Linked DNA regions of Homo sapiens. The protein of the gene in region 2 purifies or fractionates together with the protein of the main gene of each other region. This does not show direct contact. Each region holds a gene or a part of one and is shown on either strand. Other genes may lie near its edges.

Region 1 (7,113 bases), on a different chromosome or scaffold from region 2:
ACTTGGGAACAAGAGAATTAACAGTATCCGAGAGAGTTCTGGATACAGGAAAGGTAATCATCATTGGGATATCCATATCTTAGTGGAGGCAGATAAGGAAATCTGGGAGATTAGTTAAGTGTGGCTTTGAGGTTGGACATTCCAGAATTTGACTCCCAGCTCTTCTACTCACTAAATGTGTTACTTTGGGAAGTTAGTGATTCCAAGTGCGTTTCTCTGTCCCTAAGGTAGGCAGGGAATGCATACCTTATAGGATTGCTTTGAGCAGGCCTATCCCTAGAGTAGATGGGGCCCTGGGCAGATTTTTTTTGTAGGGCTCCTGTCTATATAAACAATTTGAGTCACCCAAAGCAGTGTGTCAACAGCTCAATCTGTTTCAGTCTTGGGAAAGAAATGCCACACCAGCCTGAGGAAGTGATTGCTTGCTAGGCTTGTCCCCTAGAATGGAGCCAGCTCCAGGGCCCCAAGAAACCCATTGGCATGACTCCTGGGGCTCCTTGGGGCATCTGGCCAACCCCTTGCACAGTATGGGAGAGATGCAGAGGATCACTAGAGAGATCTGTGAAGAGGAGGCTCAGATTCCCCATCCAGACAGCACTGCTGGCCCCAGCGATCCCAGGTACCAGAGCGCACTTAGACATTTTTGAGGAAGGAATGGGGTTAGGGCAGGGGCCCTGCTTGCGTGTGTCTAAGGGCAGTATTGATTATGAGAACTAAATGAGAACCTGGCTGGGCATGGTGGTGTGGGCCTATAGTACCAGCTACTTGAGAGGCTGAGGCAGGAGGATCACTTGGGCCTAGGAGTTCAAGACCAGCCTGGGCAAACTTGCAAGACCCTATCTCAATTTTAAAAATTGTAAAAAAAGATAAAAATAAATTTAAAGAATGAGAACGTGCATATCAAAGTGTTTGGTATAGTGGCACACAAAAGCATCCACTAAATGTTAATTTCAGTAATAATAATAGAATTGCAATATAGTCAGCATTAGTCATTTTTGACAGTCTCTATGGAGGCTGAATTAAAATAATAAAATAAGAAAAAATTGTTTATTATTGTTAAAAATAATTTCTATTGTTTGCCTTCCATGCTGTGAAACAATAGAGGCCCAGAACTATAGATGCTGCACAGGACGTGGGATTCCCAGAAAGCCACTGTGTGTTCAGAGCATCCTGTTTAGGACAGGTGCTTGGAGGAAGTGCGCCCTCCTGCAGCCATGCATGTTCCTGTGCTACGAAGCCCCAGAGTGTTCAGGAGCAGCTCCTGGCAGGGTGCTTGGGAATATTTGGCAAAGGCCTCCTCCAGCTGCCAGAAAGATCTCACGATGCTGCAGCTTCCTGTTATTGTCTGGTGCTCAATCCCTGCTTTGAGTTGTGCTGGACTCCATGATTTTCCAAGTGTCCCCATGCATATGTGTCCTTTGTAAAGCTCAAAACAACCCTTGGATGTTGCAAGGGAAGAAATTGTTTTCCCCCACTTAACAACAGCAATGAGTTAGCAAGAAGATGGGAAAAGTGGGCAAAACAAATATATCAGTGAACATACAAAATAGCTTCCGCAAAAATATATCAGTGGGCATATATCAGTGAAATAGATCTGTGAATATACAAAATAGCTTCTGCAAAAATATATCAGTGAGCATATATCAATGAAATAGATCAGTAAACGTACGAAACAGCCTCTGCAGCTTCTGACTGTAGATGTAGTACTGTTCTTGAAGAACGGCTGTCATTCATTGAGGGCCTACTATATCTCAAACATTGTGATAAGTGTCTTTTTTTGTTTGGTTTTGTTTCTGAGACAGGGCCTCCCTCTGTCTCTGAGGCTGGAGTGCAGTGGTGAGAACAGGGCTCACTTCAGCCTTCACCTCTTGAGCTCAAGTGATCTTCTTGCCTCAGCCTCCCATGTAGCTGGAACCACAGGCGCATGCTACCAGGCCTGGCTAATTCTTTGATTTTTTTTTTAGAGACAGGGTCTCACTTTGTTGCCCAGGCTGGTTTAAAACTCCTGACCTCCAACAGTCCTCCTGCTTTGGCTTCCCAAAGTGTTGAGATTACAGGCGCAAGCCACCATACCTCGCCTGTGCCAAGTGTTTCATGATTTTTCCATGTTTGATATTCTCAATGACTCAACAAAGCAGGAATTACTTTTATCTCATTTTACAGAGAAGGAAACTGGGGCATATGCAGTTAAGAGACCTGCCAAAGGTCACATAAGTACTAGATTTGGGCTTAGGTCTGCCTGACACCCAGGTTCGTGGTCTCAACCATGATGTCACTCTGCCTCAGCCTGAGGAGCATAAGAGTGGGTCATTCATGAGGTACGCTGAACACTGGCACACCTAAAGTTTGTAAATAATATTGCTAATTACGTACTTCAGCAACTCAAATTTGAAGACTCCCATAAAGTATATTGCTGTTGCCAGGAAAATTAGCAAAGATTTCCTTCCTCTAGCTCGTAAATACAAGCTGTCTGTATGGAATGTTCCCTTACTCTCCTGTAGGAAATTAGAGTGAAGTTTTTGAACCTGTGTTTCTTTCTGTCCTTTGGAGCTTTTGGGTCTCATACAAACGAAAGAACATATTTAGGGCGATTACCTTCTTGACAAACAAACAAGAGACTGGCACTATTATCAAAAGCCCCAAGGATATCTGGAGAGGATTCAGTGATTATGTTGTCAGCTGAGTCCAAATCCCAAAGCAGAATGTTCTGGACTGGAGAGCAGGGACCAAAGTAGACTTGGCAGTCCCCTCCCTGGAAAAGCAGTTCATATCCCAGAAGAGAGAAAGGTGGTTCATGTCTGATTCAGGCACCTGCTGAGACCTTTCTGTTACATGCAGCACACCAGGTGTTGTCTTCACTCGGAATGGTTTCCCAAGACCCAGATACTCAGGGTATCACGTAAGTGAGAGAACCTCTTGGGTACATTATTGTTTCTTAAAGCAATACCAACCTGTTTTCAAACTAAGTAGAACATATAACACTATAATATTTTTCTTTTAGTGTGCCCTTCTTACCCCATTCACTAATCCGCAACCCCAGACCTGTATGTCAGAGGGCTAGGGGAAGCGTCTTGGGTATAGTAGGCCATAGGCCACAAATGGCTTTGTTGTCAAAAAGACAGCATATTCTTCAAGATGCTGTGGAGCTTTTCTATAGCATCTTCCTGGTAACATTGAGAGTCTGTGTCAGGGAAAAGGTTTTAATTCTCTCCAAACCCTGAAACTCAGCTGTGAAGGCCCTCTATTACATTTGAGAGAAGTGTTTGAGCTAGCCATAAAAAATACATCCTGGGAAAGTTGGTAAGAAGGACCAGCATGTGGTTCCTGCCCTCAGACCCGCTCTCCTGACTGATGGCTTTGACTAGGCTACTTTGAGAGGCAAAGTAGTGACCGGCATCTGCTGCTGGCAAGGAGACACACTGTGTTGTGGCCTCCTGTTCCTCCAGCATGCTGGGTCCCCAGGGCCTCATCCGGTTTGTTGATGGGATATGGTTCCCCCCAAACAGCAGTCTTACTTTAACTTTTGTTCTCCTGAGGATGGAGATGATAGGTGGTGGCCAGTTACTTCTACATCTTGCAAGGGCATGAATGGAGAGGGATTTGAGGTTTCAGCTATTTGGGAAAGCATTAGATAGTTTGCATTTTTTTTTTATTTATAGTTACCAATAACCCCTTTTCAATTCCCTAGGCTTCTCATTCCATTAGTTTAATCATATTTCCCAGAATCATACGTTTCAAGCTCTTGACGGTTAAGCCTTTCTATCACGTCCCACTCTTAACCCCCAAACACCCGCATCAGTCTTCTTTGTCACAGATGTTTGAAGGATGCTTTCACGTTGGGCCTCTCTTTGTATGTGCAATTCTGCTGCCTGGCACAGTCTCCCCAGTTTCTCTGAGGCCCAGCAGGCTGCAGGTTAAGCTTTTCCTCCTCTGGGCCGGCCTGATCTTACCTCTTGCCTCGTCCTCCTCTGTGTTTTCATAGCATCCTCTGCACATCTTTGTTCAAGTTGCCTGTTTATAAGCTTCTCCCTTTTCATACACTGAGGTCCTCTCTGAGGGCAAGGAGAGAGCTGTGCTCTTATTTTTATTCCATTATAGTACCTGGCATGGAAAAAAAGCTGTGAGTGATGAGTAAATGAATGAGTGAATGTTCGCAGAAATCAAATCACTATGTTCGAAGAATACAATTCGGCATTAAATTGTCCCCCTGCCTTCAAGTAGCTGAGGCCAGGAGAAGCTGCAAAGCAAACTGGTTGCAAATTCAGGGTTATGGGGTCAGACCTCGCTGCCAAGTTCAAAGTCCAGCTCTGCTCTTTGCAGTTCTGTGACCTGGGCAAGTGACTTAATATGTCCGAGCCTTAGTTTTCTCGTATATAAAATGTGGATAATACTACCCACATTGCAGCGGTATTATGAGCCCTAAGAGAAAATACGTATTTTAGAAATGCTGGCATTTAGTTGGAGCTCGATAAATACTTCCCCCTCTTCTTCTCACCCAAATGTGTGAGAAGTTGAATAATTGTCTAGATAACAAATACAATTAGTTTTCAAAGGAAAGAAATATCACTGAAGGGAAAGAGAAAGTAGGATTTGCGATTTGAGCTGTAAAATAGATATGATTTACCCAAAATACGAGTAAAAGGAAAATAGCCCAATGATCTGAGAGTGGAAAGAAAAAGGTAGAAGTAAGACACTTTTCACCTAGTTCCACTGGCTGAATCTACTTGGTCCAGCTTTTTTTTTGTTTTATTGATGGTTGCTTTTTGTTTTGTTTATTTTATTTTTAGTCCTAGGAATGTGGGCAAGTAACTATTTTCACATGAAATGTTCCCATGTAAATTACTTCCTTGAGTGAGTAAATATGCTGCAATGCCCCATTCGTTTTAATTAAATGTACTTAAAAACTAATCTTATTTAAAGTCAGAGGGTAAAGCAGTCTGTTTAAGTTTATTGTTTGGCATTGTTTTAATCCAGGCTTTAAACAAATTTGAATCTTACTAAGAGTGGCTTACTTTCAAAGAAATCCCTGATTTCCCATCCTTTGATCCTAATGATTCTGGGGCATGACCCAGTGCTGATTATTATGGATGGACTCCTGTTAACTTGGCAAATCAGCCATGGACCTGTGACGGCCATGGGTACAAGACAAAGCTGCTAACAGAAAGGGAATATGGATTGTGTGGAGGCTGGGCACAGTGGCTCACGCCTGTAATCCCAGCACTTTGGGAGGCCGAGATGGGTGAATCACGAGGTCAGGAGGTCGAGACCAGCCTGGCCAACATAGTGAAACCCCGTCTCTACTAAAAAATACAAAAATTAGCCTGGCATGGTGGTGGGCGCCTGTAGTCCCAGCTACTCAGGAGGCTGAGGCTGGGAAATTGCTTGAACCTGGGAGGCAGAGGTTGCAGTGAGCCGAGATAGCACTACTGCACTCCAGCCTGGACAACAAAGTGAGACTTTGTCTCAAAAAAAAAAAGAAAAAAAAGAGGGGGGATATGGATTGTGTGTTACTCATTGGGGTGGACAGGTGGCCAGCACAGGCTTGATTTGTCTATGGACTACAAGACGAAGGCTACCAGTAGGAAGGTAATATAAGGTGAATACGTGGTCAGCAGATGGGTGATTCTGTCCCTGGGGTGGAAGATGAAGGCTGCCAACAGGAAGGAAGCATAGTCTGTGTGCTGTTTGTTAGGGCGTGTAGAGGTAGCCAGCAGGAAGATTCCTTTCTCAATCTCAGAAAGCAGCACACCCAGAATACACTAGAGAAACCCTTTGCAGAATCAGGATTTAAGTATGTCAGGATTTTAGATAGACTATGATATGATATGCACGAGGATTCTAGATATTTCTCAAAGGTAGAAATAAACCTTTGATATCAACACCTTTATTTATTTATTTATTTATTTATTTATTTATTTATTTATTTATTTATTTATTTTGACAGAGTCTTGCTCTGTCACCCAGGCTGGAGCACACTGGTGTGATCTTGGCTCACTGCAGCCTCTGCCTCCCGGGTTCCAGCGATTCTCTGTGCCTCCGCCTTCTGGGTGGCTAGGATTACAGGCATGCACCACCATGCCTGGCTAATATTTTTGTATTTTTAGTAGAGATGGGGTTTCACCATGTTGGCCAAAGCTGGTCTTGAACTCCTGACCTCAAATGACCTGCCCGCCTCGGCCTCCCAAAGCACTGGGGTTATAGGTGTGAGCCACCGTGCCCAGCCAACACCTTACTTTTGTAGGAAGTAAGAGACTGAGGTCCAGAGAAGTAAATGACTTTCCTAAGGTCTATGGTATAATCAGAGGGTAGTGTTAGATTAAGACCCTAGCTCTCCTCTCTCCCTGTTTGATATTACATGAGAAGACCAAAGGATTATTAATTTTTTTTTTTAAGTTCAGTTGGAGATTCAGCTCGGGTGAAACTTTCCTGTGGAGTCTCTCCAGACCTCTCCTCTTTTGGGCTCTGCTGTGTACCACACAAATGCCCATCCAAGCACCTCTATGCTTGGCTATTTGTATCTGTTTGTTTGCGTGTCTCCCTACCAGGTAGTAAGTGCCTTAGTGGCAGGACAGTTGTTTCCGTGGTTTCTTCAGACTATAACGCAGTGCTTGGTAAGTAAAGGTACTTCATACATTTTAAAATGGAGATGTAATGTAGTACACCATAACATTCACCACTTTAACATTTACGAGCCTGTGCATTTTAGTAGAACCACGAAGTTGTGCAACCATCCCACTATCTAATTCCAGAGCATTTTTATCAGCCCAGAAAGAAACCTTGTGCCCGTTAGAAAACATCCCTGATGACTCACATTCCTCAGCTGCTGGCAACGACTTATCTCCTTTAGGTGTTTGTGGGTTTTCCTATTCCAGACATTTCATCTGATTGGAATCATGTAACCTGTGATTTTTGTGTCTAGCTTCTTTTACTTAGTATAATGTTTTTAAGGCTCATCGAGGCGGTAGCATTTATCAATACCGTATTCCTTCTTATGGCTGAATAGTATCCCATTGTAGGGATATATCACATTTTCTTTATCTTTTCGTCAGCCGATGGTCATTTGTGTTGTTCCTGCTTTCTGGCTATTATGAATAATGCTGCTATGAACACTTG
Region 2 (7,113 bases):
CACTTTCTGGGCAGCACCTTCTCCCCTACCTTTCTGGCTCGTCCTGAAGGGGAGGCTCTTCCTATTCCCTTCCCCATTGCTTTGCCCTTGTATCTGCTCATCCTCCTCTCTCCCCTCTCCAGGAGAGACGTTTCAGAGCCCTTGCCTCCTTCACCATGCCGGTTGCCGCCACCAACTCTGAAACTGGTAAGAAGGGGGTGAGGATGTTAGCTTATTTCAGTGGTTCAGAGGGTGCCAGGCGAGGACTTAGGGGTGGGCACTTGCACAGCTCCAGATAAGAACCAACTGGCTCCACTGCTGTCCACCCTACCACTCAGCCATTCCTTCTGGCAGCTGCTGTGGCCATCTCCTCTGTGTGGGTTCCTGTGCTGGAACGGAGAAGAGAAAGAATAAGACCCATACCTGCTCCAGTGTAGGGCTGGAGCACAACTCACCTCCGTGGAGGGCAGGGGATGCATGCTCCAGAGGTGACCCGTACTATTGCTGGAGGGCAGTGGCATAGGACCAGGCCTTCAGGAGGTGGCCCCGGAGCTGGGCCTTGGAGAATGGCTTGGGGGTGGAGGGATTACAGCAGCACAGCCTGGGGCTGAGAAGTCCATAATCGCTGCCCACTAGGCCAGCATGTGCCAGAGGTGGACAGGGGGTACTGGGGACCAGGAAGCTGTGAGTGAAGGAACAAGAATACCAGGTTAGGATACCTGGACGTGGCTCTGTAGGAGGCATTAGGACAAGGGAGTGGGCCACTCAGACAAACTAGCAAAGCCTCAGTGGCAAACTGCTTAACCTCTTGGAGCTCGCATTTCTTCTTCTGTAAAGAGGCTGCTGTGAGACGCAAAGGCTGTAATGGGAGAGCACATTACTTTTAGGAATAGTCATAATTATTATGCTGCTGTTGCTGCCGCTGCCACCAAGTTGTTGTTGTTGTTTTTGAGACAAGTTCTGGCTCTTTAGCCTAGGCTGGAGTGCAGTGGCGCAAGCTTGGCTCACTGCAACCTCTGCCTACCAGCCTCAAGTCATTCTCCCACCTCAGCCTCCCAAGTAGCTGGGACTACAGGTGTGCACCACCATGCCCAGCTAATTTTTGTATTTTTCGTAAAGACAAAAATGTTGCCCATGCTGGTCTCAAACTCCTGAGCTCAAGTACTCCACCCGCCTCGACCTCCCAAACTACTGGGATTACAGGTGTGAACCACTGTGCCTGGCCTGAGTTGTTATTTTGGCATTAACCCTGTGTCCTTGAAACAGTCACCTCCTTTTGAAGACCTGAGATTTCCCTAAGATGAGATGATGGGACAAGATCAGTGTTCTTAACTTTTTTCTTTTTCTTTTTTTTTTTTTTTGAGATGGAGTCTCCCTCTGTTGCCCAGGCTGGAGGGCAGTGGTGGGATCTCGGCTCACTGCAACCTTCACCTCCCAGGTTCAAGTGATTCTCCTGCCTCAGCCTCCCAAGTAGCTGGGATTACAGGCACCTGCTATCATGCCCAGCTAATTTTTGTATTTTTGTAGAGACTGGGTTTCACCATGTTGGCCAGGCTGTCCTGACCTCAGGTGATCCACCTGCCTTGGCCTCCCAAAGTGCTGGGATTACAGGCATGAGCCACCACACCTGGCCTGTTCTTAATTTTATTGGTCCTGAGTCACTTAGAATCTGGTGACAGCAGTGAGCCCTCATCGTAGACATATACATCCATGCACAAAAGGTATATTCTACTCTAGGGGATCATGGATTCCCGTAGTGCACGCAGGACCCCAGAAGGTTAAGTTCCCTGTGCTAGAGGCCCTCTGAGGCCCGGGCAGCTGGGAACTGCTATGGTTCTGCTCTGAGTTGTCTGAACTTCCCCCTGCCTGGATGCCTCCCTCCCATGCAGCTCCTTCCCTTGCTCTAGGCCCCACTACTGCCTCTGCCAGAGGTTCCAGGGCTGCCACTTTGGGTAGAATGATTCCTCTGTGCCTCCTCTCCGAGAAAGTGAAGGGAGTGAGCCAGGGCCTAAACTGTGGTACACTTGTCCAGGAAAGGCCTCTTCTCCTTGCAGTGGAGGGATGGCACCAATGTCCCCAGCTTCTGCAGCATCAGAGGGCTCAGTCCCCCATCTCCTGTCCAGCCTGCTGGGCTCCCTGGGGTCTCCCTGCCTCTTTCAGCCTGCCTAGGCCCCACTGTAAGCTGCTTAGGCATTAATTAAACCCACCCCTGAGCCTGTGCTTAATGGCCTCTCCAGCCGGGACTGCCCAGTAAACCCACCAATAGTGCCTGACTGGGGCGTAGGAGGAGGAGCAAGCCCAGCAATTTGGCTTCGTTGTTGCAGACCACTTGATGGGGGCGTGGTGGGGGAGGATGGGGGACAGGGAGTGGAGCCTTGGGGTGTGGCGGTGGGTTCTGCTTCCTCAAAGGACTCCTGGGGCTCCTGCTCCCCTTCATGTTGTTCGAGGGGCTGCTCCTGGCTTCTCATATTCAAAGGAAGAAGTACAAAGTGTTTTTCTTCCTTCAGGCAGCCTCTGTCCTATCCTGAGCTACATTAGCTCCCAGCTTCAAAAATCTAATGGTGGATTCTGCCCCTTATTATCTGGTGGTCATTATACTTCCCACAGGATAGAGAGACAGCTGTGTCCCTGCCTCTGAGTTCAGGCTCCCCTTCCCTCCTCCTCCCCTGGGAGATCCCTGCCTTGGACTCTGCAAAGGGCAAAGCTAATAAGATCCTTTTTCCGCCCTTCCCCATGGGTCAGTATGGTTGAAGGGAGGGAAAGGGTATGGGTGTATTCCTCTTGCAGGGAGACCCCATATCTACTTTGGGTAGAGTCAGGGGCCCTTTTCCTGAGACTTGGGAGATAAATGGACAGTGGCACTGGGCTGAGAACTTAGAGATCCTGAACCTGGCATCTCCTGACCTGCAGCCTTGCTCCCTCTTCCCCTGTCACCAGATTCCCTCCCTTTTTTGGATCAAGGCTGGGATATGTGGCTGCTTTCAGGTGGAGCTGTCCCTTTAAATCTCTCCTCCATCCCTGGGTTACTGTCCTGGTGTGTAATTCTACTGTCATGGCAACCAGGGGTGCAATGCGACCTGGTGCCACTCCTCAGGGAATGTCTGAGTGGAGGCTGCAGTACCCTGATGGTGGCCTCTTGGGCACAAGATCTCAGAGGAATGGGGTCACCGGAGCGGAGCTGAGTCCTTCCCTTCTGCCCACACTTTTCCCTGTGTGCAAATGTGCCCTCATTTTTCCTTTCTGGGGAACTGAGTTCCAAGATGCCTGACTTGCTTCCTGGGCATCATCCCCTTCATTAAGAGGAAGAACTCATGGGAGATGGGGGAGGGGAAGAAGCTGCTGTGAGGCGAGGGGTAAGCAGGGCTGGGGCACCATCCCTACCCACAGCGATGCCACCTCCCCCACGTACCCTGCCTCCCAGTGGCTGACCAAGGGTGGGTAGGGGGAGGCGTCTGAGGCTTGAGGTATTTGCCCCATGCCCAAGTGAGGCTGCCTCCCGGTGGAGGGCTGAGTCGTTCTTGGGGACTTCCTTAGACTGAGGGACTATTGTAAAGGAAACAGGGCCTGGAGAGGGGACTGAGAGCAGAGGTCAGAGGGCATAGGGAGGAGGTGGCATGGGGTGTATTAGAGGAGGGGCTTCTAGAAAAGAGGGTACAGGGACAAGATGGGCCAAGACTTTTCTCCCTCGGGTCTCCTGAAGCTGGCTGTGAGGGGAGGGTCTCGGAGTACCGCGCCAGTCTTGAAGGGGCAGCATGCCTACCCCCTCCTCAAAACTTCCTGTTAGCCGCCTCCTCCCCATCCCCACCGACACTGACATGCTGGGGATCGGGCAATCTGTGGGACTAGGGCTCCCTCCCACCACTCTTCTCCCACCCGGGTTACCGCCTGCTCTGCACCGCGCAGCGCCAGTCAGGGCTTTAGCCAATCAGCAAGGCGGTCACGGCGGCTGAGCCTTCCCATTGGCTGGTTCCTCAGAGGGCGCTCCTCGACTCCCGCCTTCCCCAGCCCGGCCAGGCTTTGGCTGGGGAGGCGGTAGACGGCGGCGTGTAGGACGCTCCGGGAGTCCCCGGGTCTGGGGGCCGCCATGGCAGGCAGCCCAGGCAGCGGGGTCTCCTTGGAGGGTATATCCCTGGAGTCTTCTGAGGAAGCGGAGCTCCAGAGGGAAGGTAGGGAAGGGCGGGCCAGATGGGGGCGGGGCAGCTGGCCCCTTAGCCTACCTTCCTCCAGCAGAGTCGGGGCATCTGGGGAGGGTGGCCTGGGAGAGGTCATCTGAGGGCACCTTCAGGAGAGCTGTCCTGGGCAGAGGGCACCAACTCCCTTGGCTCAGTCCTCCCCTAGATAACGGAGGGAATCTGGCATACCCTGGCAGGAAGGGAAGGGTCCCTGCCCTGGCCTCTTTCAGAGCCCACTGAGGGCCTCGCAGGTCTCTGACCAATGCCAAGCCCCGGCCTGGGCAAGAGGGGTCTGAAGGGCAAGCTTGCACTTTTTTTTCTGGAGAAGGCAGGGAGCAGGAGGAGGAAGGAGATGGGAGTCCAGGAGTCCCTGAACCATCTCTGCCAGCTCCAGTTCCAGTGCCCCCTCCTCCCCACTCCTGTTCCTTCCTGGAGGAGGGGGGCACTGACAAGAGCATTGAGAGGCGCCAGGGGTGCATCCTCCGCCGTCCTCCGTGGCTTGGGTACTGTTATGCAGATGTAGGCATGGGCGGCATGGTGGCAGAGTAATGATACCCTTCGCCCATCTCTGCCCCCAGCTGGGCACATTCTGCTTCTCGCTTCCTTTCCCCGGAACTTGCCACAGCCTGGAACTCCCACCTCTGTCAGTGAGTGAAGGCAGCCCTCACCTCAGGTCTCGGGGGCATTGTTGCGGCCCAGCTGCAGGTGTTATCGTGTCCTCCATTATGTCCCATTTCGGGCTGAGAGTTTGCTTATCCCTGTGATGACTTGGTGTGACCTCAGCCTTTGGGTCACACCAAGGCCTCCAGTGCCTGTTTCCCTAGCTCCTGCCAGCGTTCCAGGCCTCAGCTTTGACTTCCTATCATCCATGTTAATTTCTCAGTGATTATAGATCATTGTCACTCAGAGCTGAAGGCCTGTAAACATCATCTAGCCCAATCCATCCATTTTACAGGCAGGAAAGACTGAGGCCAGTGAGGGACAGTGACTTGTACAATGTCACACTGAATTAGTGGTGCTTAGACTGGAGGCTGCAGGCCCTGGCTCCTGTGTGGCTGCCTGCTTGACTCTGGGCCTGTACTCACGGACTTGCTCCGAGTACTGTCTGTCTCATCCTTGAGCCTGCCAGGTACAGGTGGCTGAGCCCTGGGCTTCAGCCCATCTAGAGGTTGAGTGAGGAGCTTGTGGTTTTCTTTTCTTTTTCTTTTTTTTTTTTTTGAGACGGAGTCTTGCTCTGTCGCCCAGGATGGAGGGCAATGGCAGGATCTCAGCTTACTGCAACCTCCGCCTCCTGGGTTCAAGCGATTTTCCTGCCTCAGCCTCCCGAGTAGCTGGGATTACAGGCGCCTGCCACTACGCCCAGCTAATTTTTTGTATTTTTAGTAGAGACAGGGTTTCCCTGTGTTGGCCAGGCTGGTCTTGAACTCTTGACCTCAGGCAATCCACCCGCTTCGGCCTCCCAAAGTGCTGGGATTACAGGCGTGAGCCACCGCGCCCGGCCAGAGACAGTCTTGCTCTGCCACCCAGGCTGGAGTGCAGTGGCGTGATCTCAGCTCACTGCAATCTCTGCCTCACAGGTTCAAGCAGTTCTCCTGCCTCAGCCTCCTGAGTAGCTAGAATTACAGACCTACACCACTATGCCTGGCTAATTTTGGTATTTTTAGTAGAGATGGGGTTTTGCCTTGTTGCCCAGGCTGGTCTTGAACTCCTGGCCTCAAGTGATCCACCCAACAGCTTGTGGTTTTCTGGTGCAGGGCAGGATCTGCAACCTGACACCTGCTTCCCTTTCTCCCTTCTCTCCACCTCAGAGTCTCTTCCAGCTGCCTGGAGCCTCCCACCTGCTCAGGCTGGCATTACCTAGGGTGGAGAGAACAGGCCAAGGAAATTGTCCCCTTCCTCCAGGATCCCTGTCCCAGGCATTCAAGGGCCTGGGGTGCCTGTGCTGGGCAGGGAGGGGAATGTTGCCGGGGAGGGGCTGCCTTCTGTGGGACATGGGGGTGGGGAAGTGGCAAGTATTGTGGTGTGTTTTGGTCTTCTGTACCCAGCTGGTACCTGTGTATCTCACTGCCCGTACCTTCCCCCAGCCATGCAGCAAGTCCTGGACAACTTGGGATCCCTCCCCAGTGCCACGGGGGCTGCAGAGCTGGACCTGATCTTCCTTCGAGGCATTATGGAAAGTCCCATAGTAAGATCCCTGGCCAAGGTACAGTGCTCCAGGGAGGTGGGCACAAGGGCACTGTGCTTGGGGAGGCACAGTAGGGGATGGGGTATTAGCTACAGAGGGCTTTGGGAATGGGACATGTGGCACAAGAGGCCCCCCTGAAGGGGATTGTAGAAGAAAATCATGCCCAGGTGATGACCTGAGTGGCTGCAGGTAGAGGGGGCTGCCCCCACACCTGTCTGGTGAGTGCGTGGGTGGATGTTTGTTGACTGCCAGCTTGTGGAGTGTGTGATTGGTGCGGGCTAGCATGCACATGTTGGAGAATCTCTAGAATTCATCTTGCCTGTCCTTCTGCCTTTGGGCGTTTTGTGTGTATGTCTTTCTAAGGTCACCTGCCATGTATCAGGTTGGGGAGAGATTGACTAAAAGAGAAAATTATAGGACAATTTGGTAATGACAGTGATAGAGGTGGATACACTATGCATTTTGGGAGCATAAAGGACAGGTGTCTAACCCAGCCTGGGGTGGGTGAGGAGGGCTTCCTGGAGGAAGGACCACTTGAGCTGAGTGGAAGAATGAGGAAGAGGGGGAGGGCATTCTGGGCCACAGAAGAGCTTGAGCAGAAGCACAGAGGTAAGAAAGAGTCAGGAGTGTGCAGGGGATTGGAAGGGCTGGTGTGAGGCTGAGCCTCAAGTGTAAGACAATGCGAGCTGTGCAAAGGTTGGCAGGTCTGGAGGGCACTGGGGGCTGTATGTGGGTGCTTGGGCATCCTTCTGTGAGTATCAGGGAGGCTTTATGGTT
Region 3 (5,611 bases), about 26 Mb from region 2:
GCCTGGGCGACAGAGTGAGACTGCATCTCAAAAAAAAAGTGTACAAGTCAGTGATCTTTCCTATATTAATAGAGTTGTCTAACTATCAAGTTTAGAACATTTTCATCACCATAAGAGGAAACCCCATACCCTTAGCCATTATCCCAAACTCCTCATCCCCTCTGAGCCCTGGGCAACCACTAGTCTTTCTCTTATGTATGTATAGATTTGCCTATTCTGGGTATTTTATATAAATGGAATCTACAAAATACGGCCCTTGCTTCTGGCTTTTTTCACTTAGCATAATGCTTTGAAGGTTCATTCATGTTGTACCATGTATCAGAACTTCTTTTTTATTGCCAATTAATTTTCCATTACAGGTATATACAACTTTTTTTTTGAAACAAAGTCTCGCTCTTGTCCCCCAGGCTGGAGTTCAGTGGCACGATCTCGGCTCACTGCAACCTCCGCCTCCCAGGTTCAAGCAATTCTCCTGCCTCAGCCTCCCGAGTAGCTAGGATTACAGGCGCCTGCCACCACGTCTGGCTAAGTTTTGTATTTTTAGTAGAGACGGGGTTTTGCCATGTTGGCCAGGCCTGTCTCGAACTCCTGACCTCAGGTGTTCCACCCGCCTCGGCCTCCCAAAGTGCTGGGATTATAGGTGTGAGCCACCGTGCCCGGCCGGTATATACCACATTTTATTTATCCATTCATTATTTAGTGGACACTTAGATTGCTTCCATTGTTTAGCTCTTGTGAATAATGCTGCTGTGAACATGGGTATATCTGAGTTCCTGCTTTCAATTCCTTGGACATATACCTAGGAGTGAAATTGCTAGGTCATACGGTATTGCTATATTTAACTTTATGAGGAACTGCCAAACTGTTTCCCACAGCAGCTGCACCATTTTGCATTCCTACCGGCATGTATGAGGGTTCCAGTTTCTCCACATCCTCCCTGGCACTTGTTATCATGTCTCTATAATTATAGCTACCCTAGTGGATGTGAAGCAGTATTTCATTGTAGTTCTAATTTGCATATTTTTGATGGCTAATGCATATTTCTTTCCTGATAATTTGTTTTTGGTAAGAAATAAGCCGCTTTTTCCTACGTTCTTCCACACTCCTGTATGAAACAAGTAGGGGAGAGCCAACTTGCTAGACATTGACTCTAAATGTGCCCGAGGTTGTCATCCCAGCATGTAGATTGTCTGCCCCTATTTCTCCTCCCTCTGCATGACTCCCTGGATCACCTGCCAACAGGGGAGGCAAACACCTCAGATATCACTAATGTTTTCCAAGCCTAATACCGTACCTAGGAAAGTGAGAAAATTTAAATGAAAGGTAAAATACAGTTTAAGGCAGTAGTGAAATGAATTTTTCTACGCTCTCTTTAGATACCATGAGAATCAGTTTATGCCTATGCTAGCCATAAAGTTCTTAGGATATGAGAGCCTGGCATTACATGCTACAGCAGGAGAGGTCAGAGCAGCCGGTGAGGTTAGGGCTTGGGCGTGGGTCTCCATCTTCTCCCACAGCTTATTGAGGTCTCCTTTTTATAAAACATACCATAGTTAACTTCATGATTAGAGCAGAATGAAAAAAAACATTCATCTAGTGCATGGTTCAGGAGGATTAACCAAAAAAAGAAAGAATGAATGAAATCAAACTAGGTTCAACTTGAGAAATAGAAAATGAATGTGCATTTCAGTCCAAGTATGTGACTTGTTGGGTGCTCTGCTTTTTGAGGGGTTACTAATGTCCTTTGCTCAGGGTGCATTAGATGACTACCTCCCGTTTCTGTCTCCTCCCCCTTGCAGGTATCAGTCCCTCAATCTAACCCATGTTCCTGAACACAGTGCACCCATCTATGAATTCCGGTGACAACGGTTCAGAACAGCAACCAAATAAAACTGAACTTGGCAAAAAAGAACTTTGCCGAGAAAATTGTGTACCTGCCAGAACCAGGAGAAGTGTGTTCCTGTTTCTTCACGAGCAGACTCGCATCACAAAGCATGAATGTTAACCCACAGAATCCAAGGAGCATGGCTGGCCCGTGGGGCAGGTGGAGGGAGCAGTCTTCGTTCTTCCTCCCCTCAGTGGCAGTTTGGTCTTCACCTGTTTTTAAGCTACCTTAAACGCACTTTTCCTTCCTGCACAGCTAACTTCTACATCACTGAAATGCCCATTCCTTCCTCCGTCCCACCTCCAGCCGAATAGAAGGTCTGCTCCCGGATCACCCTCAGCCTTGGTGCTCAGTGGTCCCGAGGCCCTAGACCCCCACCCCCCGCCAGTTGCTTTGTCTGGTAGCTCAAGAGAAGGCAGAGCCCCAGCACCTCTGTGCCCCCCAGAGCTCTGTGCAGGGAGTTGGCCAGCTGCCGCATCATCGGCCACCAAGGGCACAAGAGGCGGAGGCTCCAGTCCCTGCTGGGCTGCCTCAGTCTTCAGTGCTGATTGTGTCACGGGTCAGCGTGCGCTGCTGAGCCCTGTACTGTTAACAGTGCAAAGCTAGTGAGTAGCTGTCAGGTTCCCTGGGCCTGCCATCAGGGATCACTAAATTTAAGGCTTCCAGATCCCTGGCAGGAACAGATTCCAGTCCTGCTTACTCAGTACATTTGCTCCAAACTTTTCAACTTGAGGGCAATACTAAACTTAAAAATAAGAGTTTTTTTATTACAAAATTATTTTTATGGTCCCTTTAACGAGGACCCTATGGCAAATGCACAATTATTCAGAATTACATTTTATCGTTTTCACATTGAAAACAGCAAATGTTGACTTAGTAATTTTTATATCGATATCTATATGTATATGTATATTTAATCAACCAGCAGTTTTGAAACTAGTCATCCTGGTACAAAAGTTTTGCAGCATTGCCTAAATTATAGTGCTCAACACAAGAACTGTTTTTGGGGCCAGTTTAGCATTTGTGCCGCCTCCTTTTGCTACTCAAAACAGCAATGCTTGGCGGCAGCCTTCCATGAGGCAGAAGGGGTCGTCGTTCTCTGAAAACAGTGACTCTGAAATGTTGGGACAGGGGAAGGGGTGGGAAACATGAACATGCTCAAATAACTCGAGGCTCACGTGCCAAAGTGTGTGTGTGTGTGTGTGTGTGTGTGTGTGTGTATGATGTTTTGTTTTTTTAAATGTTTTAAAAGCTTAATAGGTTGGCATCAGTTGTAGCCCACAAACATGGCTAGGGCTTTGGGGATTTGGCATTTTTCTGGTGGTTTACAAGACTTACTCCGAATACAAGAGGAAAAGCTTTAAAAACAAGATTGCATCATAACCCCCAGGAGCAAAGCAACCTGGAGGCTGCATATCCATGGGCGGGCAGCATAAGAGAATGTGAAGCCCTTCAGTGAGACGAGACGAGCAATGGGAAACCTTTTCTGTTCTTAAGAAGTGACTTTAATTTTATTGACATATGTACTGTATGTTACTGAGATTGAATGTTAGGGGAAGCCTTAAGGTAGAGGTATTTGGGAAAGTAGCCAGTGGGCACTTGTGATATCTAAAATCTGTTATCCCAGGACTGTGTACAGAGGGGCAACCTACCCATTCAGGAAGGTCAGGGCTTTGGAACCCTAAAAAGTTGGCCCGATGACTTAAAGGGAAAAATAATTCATTCCCAGAGATGAGTCAGAACAGTCTCCTCAATCCTGAAATTCAACAAGGCATCAGAAGGGCTGGCTGTGGTCAAGCCCAGCTGCTGTCATGTGAGGAGATGCTCACTGTGGTCTTGTTGAGCTGATGGCCTTGGTTGAGCTGATGGACAAGTGAAGGAGGCCATGGGGCTGTGCTGTCCTTCCTGCCGTACGTGCCATTCCACTCTCTTCAGCTCTCCCCTCAACAGCATGCGAGCCCATACCTTCTGCATTTTTCCAGGCCTGTGAGGGATATAGGCCTCCCCTTGGAGCACTGAGTCCGGAGGTCATCCCTGAGCTCATCCACGGCTCATGCTGTGGCTCCGAGTAGTGGTTTGAGTGGGCAGGAAGGGCCATTTGCAAACACTGCTGTGTTCTAGACAAACAACCCAAGTCCTATGGCAGGATTTCTTCCTTCCTTCCTTTTTTACCCAGGTGATGAAGTGCACCCATTGTACTGGGAAGAATGAAGAGGTGATACCTTTACTAGATCCTTCAGACACATCTATGAGAAGATTTGTTCATTTAAAAGTCTGCCCACTGAGGATAGGGAAAGGATTAAGGATTTTTCCACCTCCTCTTAGTAACTCCTGAATTACCAACATCAACTTCTTTCTCTCCGTTCCTGAAGGAACTTTGGGGAATCATCTTCATCCGTAGTTACGCTTTCCTGAACCTTCTCAGTGGTTTACATGCCTCTGAAACTATGTGCAATATTTTTGGTTGACACTTGTATCCATCCTTAAGAAATTAGTGCAGATTGCAGATGTTCTGTCTTCCATCCCAAACAAGCCTGCCATGAGGTAGGATCCTAGGGGTTTGGCTGTTCTTACTCCACTGCTCAGAAAGCTTCCATTCTGCTGTCCTCAGCCTCGACCCTCTTCTGTGCTGGACTTCCACCCACCCACCCTTTTCAAGTTTAGATAGTGTTTCAGCTGCTGTCCCAAAGTAACAAAACAATACCTACTGTTAAGTAGGAAGTCAATCTGTGTGCTGGTTTTGTTGGTTATGTGGAAATCACAAACTCCAGAGGAGCAAAGGGGTTTTTCAATGTCTTTTGCTTTCAGAAACAGAGAATATAATATTCTCACTAAGGCCTTGAATTGATTTTTTTCTCATAAAATAGTCTGATAAGCTAATTTTTAAAAAGAAATGCCATTAACTGTGTTGTATCGTGGTTTAAAATTACTAACAAGTTGTGGGAAAGAAAAATAATATTTGATTTTGAATCTTAAATGTTTTTAAAAATTAGACTTGAATGGGCACAAAGTATAAATATTTTGTTTCTTTATGGAGGACATGTGGAAGGAGTTTGAGGGTTTGGGATGGGAGAAGTATTTTGCAGAGCTATCAATGTCCAAATAATTTAAAAAAAAAAATAAAGGTATTTAAGCAGTGAGTTTGTCCTATTTGTAAACCAAAGCAGCTCCATTAGAGGAAAGCAGTCCTCTCTGGGCCTGTGGCTGTGGAGCTCTCCAGGGCCAGCCGGAGACCTCTGTGTGCCAGGGCAAACCGAGGGCCCCTCTGGGCAACTGTTGCAGTGGTCTGCTTGCTCCTTTTTCATTCTGAATGTTTTCAGCTGCTCAGCACTTCTATTCAAGCTCCATTTTGTTAATTTCTGTATTTCTTCAGAAATGTGGAAGCATTTTTTTTTTCCATATGTGAAGGGTTTATATTTCTATTTAACACAGAGAAAATGTGCAGGCAGAGGTATCTGTCCAAAGCCTGCTTTGTGTTCTGGTGTGGGGACAGGCAATGCTGTTGGGCTGCTCTCGACACTGTGACTGTGGTCCTCAGAGAAGATGCCTAAGTCTCAAAGCACAGGCACTTGGACCCCCAAATAGCAGGATCCCTAAATCAGCCATTACAGTTTATTCTGACAAACCATTCTGTTACGTTTCAGGTCCCACCTCCCTAGGAGGCTTGAAGGAACATGACTGGAAACATGGGAGATTTTGAGGAAACATATAAAGTGTTGAGGTCTA

Evidence for each region.
Region 1: the proteins of MPP2 (region 2) and ABLIM1 purify together in Homo sapiens (co-immunoprecipitation; 2 studies listed by BioGRID and IntAct, with this or other methods). This does not show direct contact.
Region 3: the proteins of MPP2 (region 2) and GID4 purify together in Homo sapiens (affinity purification with mass spectrometry; 2 studies listed by BioGRID and IntAct, with this or other methods). This does not show direct contact.

What each region holds. Positions count from the first base shown.
Region 1 is NC_000010.11:114,648,226-114,655,338, reverse strand, and holds part of ABLIM1 (actin-binding LIM protein 1), read left to right. Parts: intron 1-7,113. UniProt on the Homo sapiens protein: May act as scaffold protein. May play a role in the development of the retina. Has been suggested to play a role in axon guidance.
Region 2 is NC_000017.11:43,897,503-43,904,615, reverse strand, and holds part of MPP2 (MAGUK p55 subfamily member 2), read left to right. Parts: intron 1-122; coding exon of another isoform or gene 123-155; coding exon 156-186; intron 187-3,051; exon of another isoform or gene 3,052-3,332; intron 3,333-3,991; exon of another isoform or gene 3,992-4,063; coding exon of another isoform or gene 4,064-4,145; intron 4,146-6,235; coding exon 6,236-6,354; intron 6,355-7,113. UniProt on the Homo sapiens protein: Postsynaptic MAGUK scaffold protein that links CADM1 cell adhesion molecules to core components of the postsynaptic density. In CA1 pyramidal neurons, required for synaptic KCNN2-containing channel function and long-term potentiation expression.
Region 3 is NC_000017.11:18,063,381-18,068,991, forward strand, and holds the end of GID4 (glucose-induced degradation protein 4 homolog), read left to right. Parts: intron 1-1,799; coding exon 1,800-1,863; 3' UTR 1,864-5,025; downstream 5,026-5,611.